2 separate regions of the Homo sapiens genome follow, and region 2 is linked to region 1. Evidence: fine-mapped QTL for protein levels in blood plasma. Region 1 holds a variant in brackets. A gene starts in the other region. All regions are shown on their forward strands.

The links. A credible set is the group of variants that fine-mapping cannot tell apart. PIP is the posterior inclusion probability: the model's chance that the variant is causal. The UK Biobank Pharma Proteomics Project read protein levels with antibody pairs (Olink). The fine-mapping took linkage between variants from a reference panel, not from the people measured, so its PIPs are less certain.
Region 2: PRSS8 starts here. The variant in region 1 is the best candidate, but not a certain one, in a credible set for the plasma level of the PRSS8 protein (UK Biobank, PIP 0.59).

The regions. Positions count from the first base shown.
Region 1 is chr19:38,239,408-38,244,777 of GRCh38, forward strand. No RefSeq gene overlaps it. Among named protein-coding and RNA genes, the nearest start is that of PPP1R14A, 14 kb to the right of the region's middle. RefSeq lists an enhancer at 4,837-5,370. The variant C/T (reference allele first, on the strand shown) is at 2,536.
Region 2 is chr16:31,133,438-31,138,807 of GRCh38, forward strand. It overlaps PRSS8 (serine protease 8), which reads right to left and starts at 2,290. Exons shown (of 6, transcript NM_002773.5): 1 at 1,977-2,290; 2 at 1,717-1,734. The coding sequence starts at 2,061. RefSeq lists enhancers at 405-1,351, 5,039-5,370.

The sequences.
Region 1 (5,370 bases):
TAGCTGGGCATGGTGGTGCGTGCCTGTAATCCCAGCTACTCGGAAGGCTGAGGCAGGAGAATTGCTTGAACCAGGGAGGTGGAGGTTGCAGTGAGCCAAGATCGAGCCACTGCACTCCAGCCTGGGCGACAGAGTAAGACTCTGTCTCAAAAAAAAAAAAAAAAAAAAAAGAGAAAAGAAAAGAAAATATTCGCTGGGCACGGTAGCTTATGCCTGTAATCCCAGCACTTTGGGAGGCCTAGGTGGGTGGATCACCTGAGGTTGGGAGTTTGAGACCATCCTGACCAACATGGAGAAACCCAATCTCTACTAAAATTACAGAACTGCCGGGCGTGGTGGCACCCGCCTATGATCCCAGCTACTCCAGAGGCTGAGGCAGGAGAATCACTTGAACCTAGGAGGCAGAGGTTGCGATGAGCTGAGATCACGCCATTGCACTCTAGCCTGGGCAACAAGAGCAAAACTCCATCTCAAAAGAAAAAAGAAAGAAAGAAAGCATTCAGGGGAGTGGGAGCCAGTGTTGCACCGGATGTAGCTGAGAGGTCAAGACAAGCAGGAGGTGTGATGTTGGACCCAACACCATGGGGACCCCGACAAGAGCATTTCCAGAGTAGGAACAGCAAGATGTGAACATTTGATTGGAAATGGTGTAAGAGAGAACTGAGAACGTCTCTTGTGAGAAATTTTGCTGTAAAAGGAAACGGAGAAATGGGGCTGGAGCTGGAGGAAGTCCAGAGAGTTTTTGTTGTGATTTTGTTTTAATGTGGAAGAAGTGACGATGTGTCTGTGTGCCCGTGGGAATGAGTACGTGGGGGCTGGGGACCTGCTGGAGCAATGACCTTCAGGAAGCAAGAGAAAATGGGGAAAATAGGCCAGGCACGGTGGCTCAATTTGGGAGGCCGAGGTGGGCAGATCACTTCAGCCCAGGAGCTCGAGACCAGCCTGGGCAACATGGCAAAACCCCGTCTCTACAAAAAAAAAAAAAAAAAAAAAAAAGGTAGCCGGGCATGATGGCACGTGCCTGTAATCCCAGCTACTACTTGGGAGGTTAAGGTGGGAGGATCATCTGAGCCCGAGGAGGTTGAGGTTTCAGGGAGCCATGATGGTGCCACTGCACTCCAGCCTGGGTGACAGAGACCCCATCTCAAAAAAGAAAAAAAAAAAAAAGAAAATGGGGGAAATCCCCAAGGGGGGTGACGTTAGAGACAGCTGATCCATCCCAACAGGACCCAAAAGCACTTACCAGCACAGAAGCCAGGAGGTGGGGCAGTCGGCAGGAGACGAGGGAATTAGGGTGTTCTCTTCTAGTGAAGCTTGTGAGCAAGGATGGGGAAAGGAGAGAGACACACTTGGAACCCTCACTATGAGCAAGGGAGGTATGGAGCGTGGCTCCCACCCCAGTGGACGCCTGGAGGGGAGGGTCAGGAATTTAAAGTGAAAACTTGTGTTTCCTCCAACCATGCTAACCAATGAGGGCACACACTTGCAGAAGACAGAGAGTTGCCAGCACTTTGGGAGGCCTAGGGGGGCGGATCACCTGAGGTCAGGAGTTCGAGACCAGCCAGGACAATATGGCAAAACCCCATCTCTACTAAAAATACAAAAATTAGCCGGGCATGGTGGCACACGCTTGTAATCCAGCTACTTAGGAGGCTGACGCACAAGAATCACTTGAACCCGGAAAGCAGAGATTATAGTGAGTCAAGATTGCGCCACTGCACTCCAGCCTGGGCAAAAAGAGTGAGACTCTGTCTCAAAGAAAAAAAATACAAGGGGAAGGGAATGAGACACCACCTTTTGATGGGAGAGTGAGAAATAATTTGGCATGTCACAGTGATATTCTCTTCCATTTTCCATAATCAACTCCATTGGTGTTTTTTGTTGTTTTTTTTGTGTTTTTTGAGACGGAGTCTCCATCTGTCACCCAGGCTGGAGTGCAGTGGTGTGATCCCGGCTCACTGCAACCTCCACCTCCCGGGTTCAAGCAATTCTCCTGCCTCAGCCTCCCGAGTAGCTGGGATTACAGGTGCATGCCACCACGTCCTGCTAATTTTTTGTATTTTAGTAGAGACGGGGTTTCACCGTCTTGCCCAGGCTGGTCTCAAACTCTTGAGCTCAAGCAATCCACCTGCCTCGGCCTCCCAAAGTGCTAGGATTACAGGTGTGAGCCACTGCGCCCAGCCAACTCAATTGTTATACTCTACATTTAGGTCTTTATTCTATCTGGAGTCTATTTTTGTATGTGCTGCTACATAGGGACACTTTAGTAGGATTATTTTTAAATTTTTTAAAAAATTTCAATAGTTTTGGGGTACAGGTGGTTTTTGGTTACATGGATAAGCTCTTTTTTTTTTTTTTTTTTTGAGATGGAGTCTTGCTTTGTCACCCAGGCTGGAGTGCAGTGGCGCGATCTCGGCTCACTGCAAGCTCCGCCTCCCGGGTTCATGCCGTTCTCCTGCCTCAGCCTCCTGAGTAGCTGGGACTACAGGCGCCCGCCACCATGCCTGGCTAATTTTTTTGTATTTTTAATAGAGA[C/T]GGGGTTTCAACATATTAGCCAGGATGGTCTCAATCTCCTGACTTCGTGATCCACCCGCCTCGGCCTCCCAAAGTGCTGGGATTACAGGCGTGAGCCACCGCGCCTGGCATGGATAAGTTCTTTAGTGGTGACTTCTGAGATTTTAGTGCACTTGTCACTGGAAGAGTGTACACTGTATCCAGTATGTAGTCTTTATCCCTCACCACCTCCCAACCTTCCCTGCCCCAAGTCCCAGAGTCCATTATATCATTCTTATGCCATTGTGTCCTCATACCTTAGCTCCCGCTTACAAGTGAGAACATACGGTTTGTGGTTTTCCATTCCTCAGTTACTTTACTTAGAATAATGGCCTCCAAGGCTGGGCGCGGTGGCTCACGCCTGTAATCCCAGCACTTTGGGAGGCCAAGGTGGGTGGATCACATGAGGTCAGGAGTTCGAGACCAGCCTGACCAATATGATGAAACCCCTTCTCTACTAAAAATACAAAAAAATTAGCCGGGCGTGGTGGTTCATGCCTGTAATCCCAACTACTCAAGAGGCTGAGGCAGGAGAATTGCTTGAACCCAAGCGGCACAATCTCGGCTCACTGCAACCTCCGCCTCCTGGGTTCAAGCAATTCTCCTGCCTCAGCCTCCCAAGTAGCTGTGATTACAGGCATGCACCACTACACTCTGCTAATTTTTGTATTTTTACTAGACATGGGGTTTCACCATGTTGGTTAGGCTGGTCTCGATCGCCTAACCTCAGGTGATCCACCCGCCTCAGCCTCCCAAAGTTCATCTGGAATTTTGATGAAGATTGCTGTGGGCGGGCACAGTGGGCAGCAGCGAGACTTCGTCTAAGGAAAAAAAAATTAGGTGTGATGACACGTGCCTGTAGTCCTAGTTACTTGGGAGGCTGAGGTGGGAGGATCACCTGAGCTCAGGAGTTTGAGGGTGCAGTGAGCTATGATGGTTCCACTGCACTCCAGCCTGGGCAACAGAGTGAGACCGTGTCTCAAAAAAAAGTTCTGCCCATCAACCAATGAGTGCATAAAGGAAATGTGGTACATATACAGCCGTTAAAAGGAATGAAATCATGTATTTTGCAGCCACTTGGATGGAGCTGGAGACATTATTCTTTTTTTTGTTTGTTTGAGAGGAAGGTCTTGCTCTGTGGCCCAGGCCAGAGTGCAATGGCAGGATCTCGGCTCACTGCAAACTCTTGGGCAGATCATGAGGTCAGGAGTTCGAGACCAGCCTGACCAACATGTCGAAACCCCGTCTCTACTAAAAATACAAAAATTAGCCGGGCATGGTGGCGCGTGCCTGAAATCCCAGCTACTGAGGAGGCTGAGGCAGGAGAATCGCTTGAACCCGGGAGGCGGAGATTGCATTGAGCCGAGATCATGCCACTGCACTCCAGCCTCAGTGACAGAGCGATTCTCAGTCTCAAAACAAACAAACAAACAAAAACCACTTCAAGCCGGGCATGATGCGGGTGCCTGTAGTCCCAGGTACTCAGGAGGCTGAAGCAGGTAGGATCGCTTGAACTCAGGATTTCGAGGCTGCAGTGAGCTATCATAGTGCTGCTGTGCTCCAGCCTGGGCGACAGAGCAAGACCCCTTTCTAAAAAAAAAAAAAAAAAAAAAAAAAAAAGATAAGATATGAAAACAAAACAGCCGGGTGCGGTGGCTCACGCTTGTAATCCCAGCACTTTGGGAGGCCGAGGTGAGTGGATTACCTGACGTCAGGAGTTTGAGACCAGCCTGACTAATATGGTGAAATCCCGTCTCTACTAAAAATACAAAAATTAGCCAGGCATGGTGGCGCGTGTGTAGTCCCAGCTACTCAGGAGGCTGAGGCAGGAGAATCGCTTGAACCTGGGAGGTGGAAGTTGCAGTGAGCCGAGATCGCGCCATTGCGCTCCAGCATGGGGGACAAGAGCAAAAACTCTGTCTCAAAAAACAAACAAAGAAACAAAACAGAAAAAGTAAAAAGGAGAAACGAAAATTAAAAAAAAAAAACAAAACAAAGAAATAAAATAAAATAAAACCAATTCACATAGCCACGAGGGGGCGCTGAGGCCTCACGTCCACACGTAGAGGGCTGCGGTGCTTGGAGACAACGTGGCCACCTGGGAGTACGGTTCTTGGGCAAGCGCCTACTGTGCGCCCGGCGCCGTTCTACACAGGAACACAGCGCTTTTCAAGGTAGGCGAGGAGCTAATATTCTGAAGATGGTGGTGGGGGGCGGTGAACAGACAATAGAATAGACAGACCAGAGTGTAATATTTTTTTTTTTGAGATAGGGTGTTGCTGTGTTTCCCAGGCTGGAGTGCAGTGGTGCAATCATAGCTCACTGCAGCCTCAAACTCCTGGGCTCAAGCAATACTCCCACCTCAGCCTCCAGAGTAACTAAGAACACAGGCATGCACCACCACGTCTAGCTAATTTTATTTTTTGTAGAGACAGGGTCTCCCCTGGGCTGGTCTGGAACTCCTGGCCTCAAGTGATCCTCCTACCTCGGCCACTCAACGTGCTAGGATTACAGGCATGAGCCACCACGCCTGGCCAATAAATTCTATAAAAAAATAAATAAATCAGCAGGGCACGGTGGCTCACACCTGTTATCTCAGCACTTTGGGAGGCCGAGACAGGTGGATCATGAGGTCAGGAGTTCAAGACCAGGCTGGCCAGGATGGTGAAACCCTGTCTCTACTAAAAATACAAAGAAATTAGCTGGGCGTGGTGGCAGGTGCCTATAATCCCAGCTACTCGGGAGGCTGAAGCAGAGAATTGCTTGAACCCAGGAGGTGGAGGTTGCATTGAGTAGGGATCATGCCACTGCACTCCA
Region 2 (5,370 bases), not on the chromosome of region 1:
ATGCAGCCCAGGAGCTCTGATATAGAGCTTGGGAAGTGGGTTCACAGGAGTCAACACCCCTTTGTCCCCTCCCAGGCATGGGCAGTTGTGCCCCTTCTGTCCACTACCCATTACCTAATTCAGGTCTCATGGCAGCTTCTCTCCTTGCAAGCCTTCCATCCATCCCGCCCCTTACAAGTCTGAAGATTTTCATAAACCCCCAATCTGACCAGGCCACAGCCCTGCTTAAACCCTTCTTGGCTCCACGCGGTCCTTAAGATACATTCCAGACAGACCATGGCACCGCCATCGGACCCAGCCGTCCCCTCTGGACCCTTCAGTTGTGTACATCAGGCCACACACTTGTTTACCCGGGACCTTGGCTGATCCAGGTCACTCTACCTGGTATGCCCTTCCCCATCCTTACTGTCTGGCAAACTTCCCTTTGCCTGTGGATGCTTGATTGGAACAGCAGCCCCTCCGTAGACAGGCGGGCTTCTGCTGGCTGAGTTGGGCATTGCCTCCGAGCCCAGCACCCCCCAACCTCCACCATGCTCCCCGATGCTGCCCAGTCTCACAATTGTTCCGGAGTCCACAACTGTGTCTGTTTCCACCACACCAATCTGGGCATTCCCTAGGGGCAGATTCTCATGTCTGCAGTGCCTGTGGCGTCGTGGACATATATTCAACAAACCAACAGCAGAACTGGGCTCCTGTGATGTGAATGTCTAGTTTCCAGGACAGCCCCAGCCCCACCCCCATTGAGGCCACTTTGGAGTGGAGCCCAACTGCTCTTCACAAAGTCATCTAGGAGCAGAGAAAATTGCAGACCAGATCTTTCTCTCCCTTATCATCATGACAATAGCCACTATTTAGAGAGCCTAGCGGCTGTGCCAGGCCCTGGAGGGGCTTTCGCTTCCTCATCTCCCTGCATCCTCTCCACAGCCCCAGGAGACGGACATGACCAGCTTCATTTTAGAGGTGAGGAGTCTAAGGCTTAGAGAAGTGGGGGGACTTGGCCAATGACACACAGCCAGTGCATGGGGAAGCCAGGATTGAAAGCCGGTCTGACTCAGAGCTGGGTTGGGTGCCTTCCAAGAAAGGAGACCCTTGGTTTGGTTCCCTCAAAACCACCTCCAGGATGGGAACGGTGGCTCACACCTGTAATCCCAGCACTTTGAGAGGCCAAGGCAGGAGGATCGCTTGAGCCCAGGAGTTCAAGACCTGCCCGGCCAACATAGTGAGACCCACATCTCTACCAAACAAAAACAAAAACAAAAACAAAACACAACTAGCTGGGTGTGATGGCATGCACCTGTAGTCCCAGCCACTAGGGAGGCTGAGGTGGGGAGGTGGGAGGATCACGTGAGCCCGGGAGGCTGGATCACTGAGACTGCAGTGAGCTGCGATCGGGCCACTGCACTCCAGCCTGGGTGACGACAGACCCAGACCCTGTTTCAAAAGACAAAAACCAAACCAAAAAAACCACCTCGATTGCCCCACTTTGGGAGTCAGACGTGGATCTGAATCCCAGCTGCACCTTCACTGGCAGTGTGCCCTGGGCAAGTCCCTGCTTCTCTGCCCATAAGGTGAGGGCTAAAACCCCCCACTCTGGGAGCCCTAAGAGAATCTAGTTGGAAGGCAGCCCAGCTGAAGGCCAGGCACTGGTTAAACCCCAGGGGAATCCGATCCAAGTCACCTCCCCCTCCCCTCCTCCCTCTCCGAGGAAAGTCTCACCTTCTGCCCCTTCCGCTCCTAGAAAGAAAGAGAAAGAGGAGGGGTGAGTAGGGAAGACTCGGGTTCCCTGACCCCTTAGTACCCACCACTGCTCCAGAGGGCTGGCCCCTTCCCTGACAGAGCCAAGGTGGGAAAGAGAGGCCAAGAGCTAGGGAGGCCGGGGGTTTTCTTGGGCCCCAGACAAGGGCACACCCCAGAAAATGATCACGCCGGCTCCCTCCAGTGCATTGTCCCCACCCTGCCCCCACGTCCTCACTTACCTGTCCCCGACCGGAGTAATCCAAGATAGAGCAGAATGGCCACAGCCCCCAGCTGCCCAGGCCCCAGGACCCCCTTCTGGGCCATGGCCCAGGACAAGGGCCCCTGGGGCAGACTCCAGGCACGCAAGGTAGGAAGCCTTGGGGTGGTGTCGAAGGCAGGACCCAGATGTTGGCTCAGAGGGAAGGATCCCAGAATCCGGGCTGGAAAGGGGCAGCAAGTGTCCAAGGCTGGCCTCTAAGGCAGGGAGCGGCCGCAACGGGAGACGCCTGGAGTATCCGAAGCGAGCAGTGTGGACGAGTCACCAGCACCGTCTGGCCACGCAGGGTCCTCCCAGGAGTGGCTGCACCTACCTGCCCGCCCCTCCCCTGGCCCCGCCCACTGGCTGGGCTCCGCCAGCTCCTCTTGCCACCAAAGTCATGAGTCCTTTCAGAGCTGCAGGCCCGTGTGTGTGCATGTATGTGTCCGTGTGTATGTGTGTGCACATGCATAGGCCTTTTGTGTGTGTGTCCCGGTGTGTAGTGTGTATGTGGTGTGTGTGTATGCCTGTGTAGGCTGTGTGTGTCCTCTTATGTGGTGTGGTATGTGTGTGTGTGTGCATGTACAGGCTGTATGTGCACATGTGTAGGCTGTGTGTGTCCCTGTGTGTGTAGTGTGTGTGTCTGAGTGTGCGTGCATGCACGTGCATGTGGTTTGTGTGTGTGTGCAGTCTCCCTGGAATGTGACGACTCTCCTCCGCCTCAGGTCTTTCAGGTTATCTCAGGCCAGTTATGCCCCCCAGGGCCTGGCCCCAGCTTTTATTATCTGGAGCCACAGCCACTCCTCCCTTCTTCCCTCCCTCCTTAGGCTGGTTATGGGAGCTTAAGACACTATGGTCTGTCCCCTGCCAGGCCCTTTCTGCGATGCCTGCACCTCATGGGTGGTGGCGAGCTTGTGGAGCAGCACCAATCATCCCACAGACATTTCCTAAGTGCCTATGATGTTCCCAGGTGTCCAGGACAAAACAGGCACCAGCCCCGTCCCCCTTGAGCCCTGAGCTCATGGTGAAGTAGGGGTGACACACTTCAATCAAATAATCACAAACAGGCTGGCAAGGTGGCTAGTCGGCTTTGGGAGGCTGAGGCTGGAGCATCACTTGAAGCCAGGAGTTCCAGACCAGCCTGGGGAATATAGCGAGGCCTCATCTCTACAAAGAAATATAAAAATTAGGCAGGCATTGTGGCGCATGCCTATGGTTCCAGCTATTTGGGAGGCTGAGGCAGGAGGATTGCTTGAGCCCAGGAGTTCAACGAAGCATTGAGCTATGATCACGCCACTGCACTCCAGCCTGGGCAACAGAGGGAGACCCTGTCTTAAAAAAAAAAATTGCAATTACACAATAATTTCAAGCTAGGAATAGTGATGAAAAAGAATGGCGTGAGCACACCACAGCCTGGCAAAGGCTGGCATTGTGAAAGGGTCCTCGAGGAATTGCCTTGGAAACTGAGACCGAAAGGGATTATAAAAGGTGGTAAGGCGAAGATGGGGGGATGGGGTGCAGAGGGCAGAGGCTCAGGGAAAGAAGGCTTGCCGTGTGGCTGCGGTGGGAGTGAGGCATGTATCCTCCTTGAGGGCCACTCTGGCCGTTCAAAACACCTGTTGAGGCTGGGTGTGGTGGCTCACGCCTCTAATCTCGGCACTTTGGGAGGCCAAGGCACACGAATCACGAGGTCAGGAGTTTGAGACCATCCTGAACAACATGGTGAAACCCCATTTCTACTAAAAATACAAAAATTAGCCAGGCGTGGTAGCACGCACCTGTAATTCCAGCTACTCAGGAGGCTGAGGCAGGAGAATCGCTTGAACCCAGGAGGTGGAGGTTGCAGTGAGCCGAGATATTGCGCCATTGCACTCCAGCCTGAGCGACAGAGCGAGACTCCGTCTCAAAAAACAAACAAACAAAAAAAATTGTGGAGCTTGGATGTGGTGGCTCACACCTATAATCCCAGCACTTTGTGAGGCCAAGGTGGGAGGATCATTCTCAAGATCAGGAGTTTGAGACCAGCTTGGCCAACATGGTAAAACCCCGTCTCTCCTAAAAAATACAAAGAAAATTAGCCAGGCGTGGTGGCGCATACCTGTAATCTTAGCTACTCGGGAGGCTGAGGCAGGAGAATTGCTTGAACCTGGGAAGCCAAGATTGTGCCACTGCACTCCAGCCTGGGCAACAGAGGGAGACTCCATCTCAAAATAAATAAATAAATAAAATAAATAGGCCAGATGCAGTGGCTCACGCCTGTAAATCCCAGCACTTTGGGAGGCTGAGGTGGGCGGATCATCTGAGGTCAGGAGTTCAAGACCAGCCTGGCCAACATAGAGACACCCCACCTCTACTAAAAATACAAAAATTAGTTGGGCATGGTGGTGGGCACCTGTAATCCCAGCTTCTCAGGAGGCTGAGGCAGGAGAATTGCTTGAACCTGGGAGGTGAAGGTTGTAGTGAGCCGAGATTGCGCCATTGAACTCCAGTGTGGGCGACAATAGCAAAACTCTGTCTCAAAAAATTAAAAATAAATAAGTTAAATAAAAATACAAAAATTAGTCCGGCATGGTGTCTTGAGTCTGCAATCCTAGTTACTTGAGTCTGAGGCAGGAGGATCGCTTGAACCCAGGAGGTGGAGGTTGCAGTGAGCCGAGATTGCACCACTGCACTCCAGCCTGAGCATCAGTATGAGACTCTGTCTCAAAAAAAAAAAAGTGGAGATGGGGGTCTTGCTTTGTTGCCCGGGCTGGTCTGGAATGCCTGGCCTCAAGCGATCCTCCCAAAGTGCTGGGATTACAGGCATGAGCTGCCGCACCTCGTCTCTGGTTTTGCGTTACTTTTTAATTGTAGATTCATTGGCTGGAAACCACCTTCCCTTTTTCTGTGCTCAAACATCACTGCTATGACATCTTCCCAATCCCAGCCAGGGATGTCCACATGTGTCCCCACTAGATTGGGAGGACTTTGTGGGCTTATATATCAGACCCCAATTGTGCCACGACTTAGTAGCCACCAGGGAACACGGGTTGAATGAATGCAGGGAGGTGCAGGTAAGCAGTGGGTAAGGGAGTGAGGTTCACATATAAGGGACCCAAGTTCTGGGCAGAATGTGAAAGTGGCAGACCCTTGAAGGGCCCAAGTGTTGTGTGTGTGCAGGGGATACATCGGAGCATTGTGCATTGAGGTGTGTCTATGGCGGGCAGCGAGGGCAGCGGGTCTGAGCAGGGGATGAGATGTCCAGCACGTGCCGAGGGTGCTGACTCCACTGGGCAGGTGACACACAGCCAGCTGGCCACCCGACTTCCCTGCCCTGGGACAGGAATGAAGGAATCGCTGCCAGGTTATCAGGGTACATTTCCTGAGAGCCCAAGGCC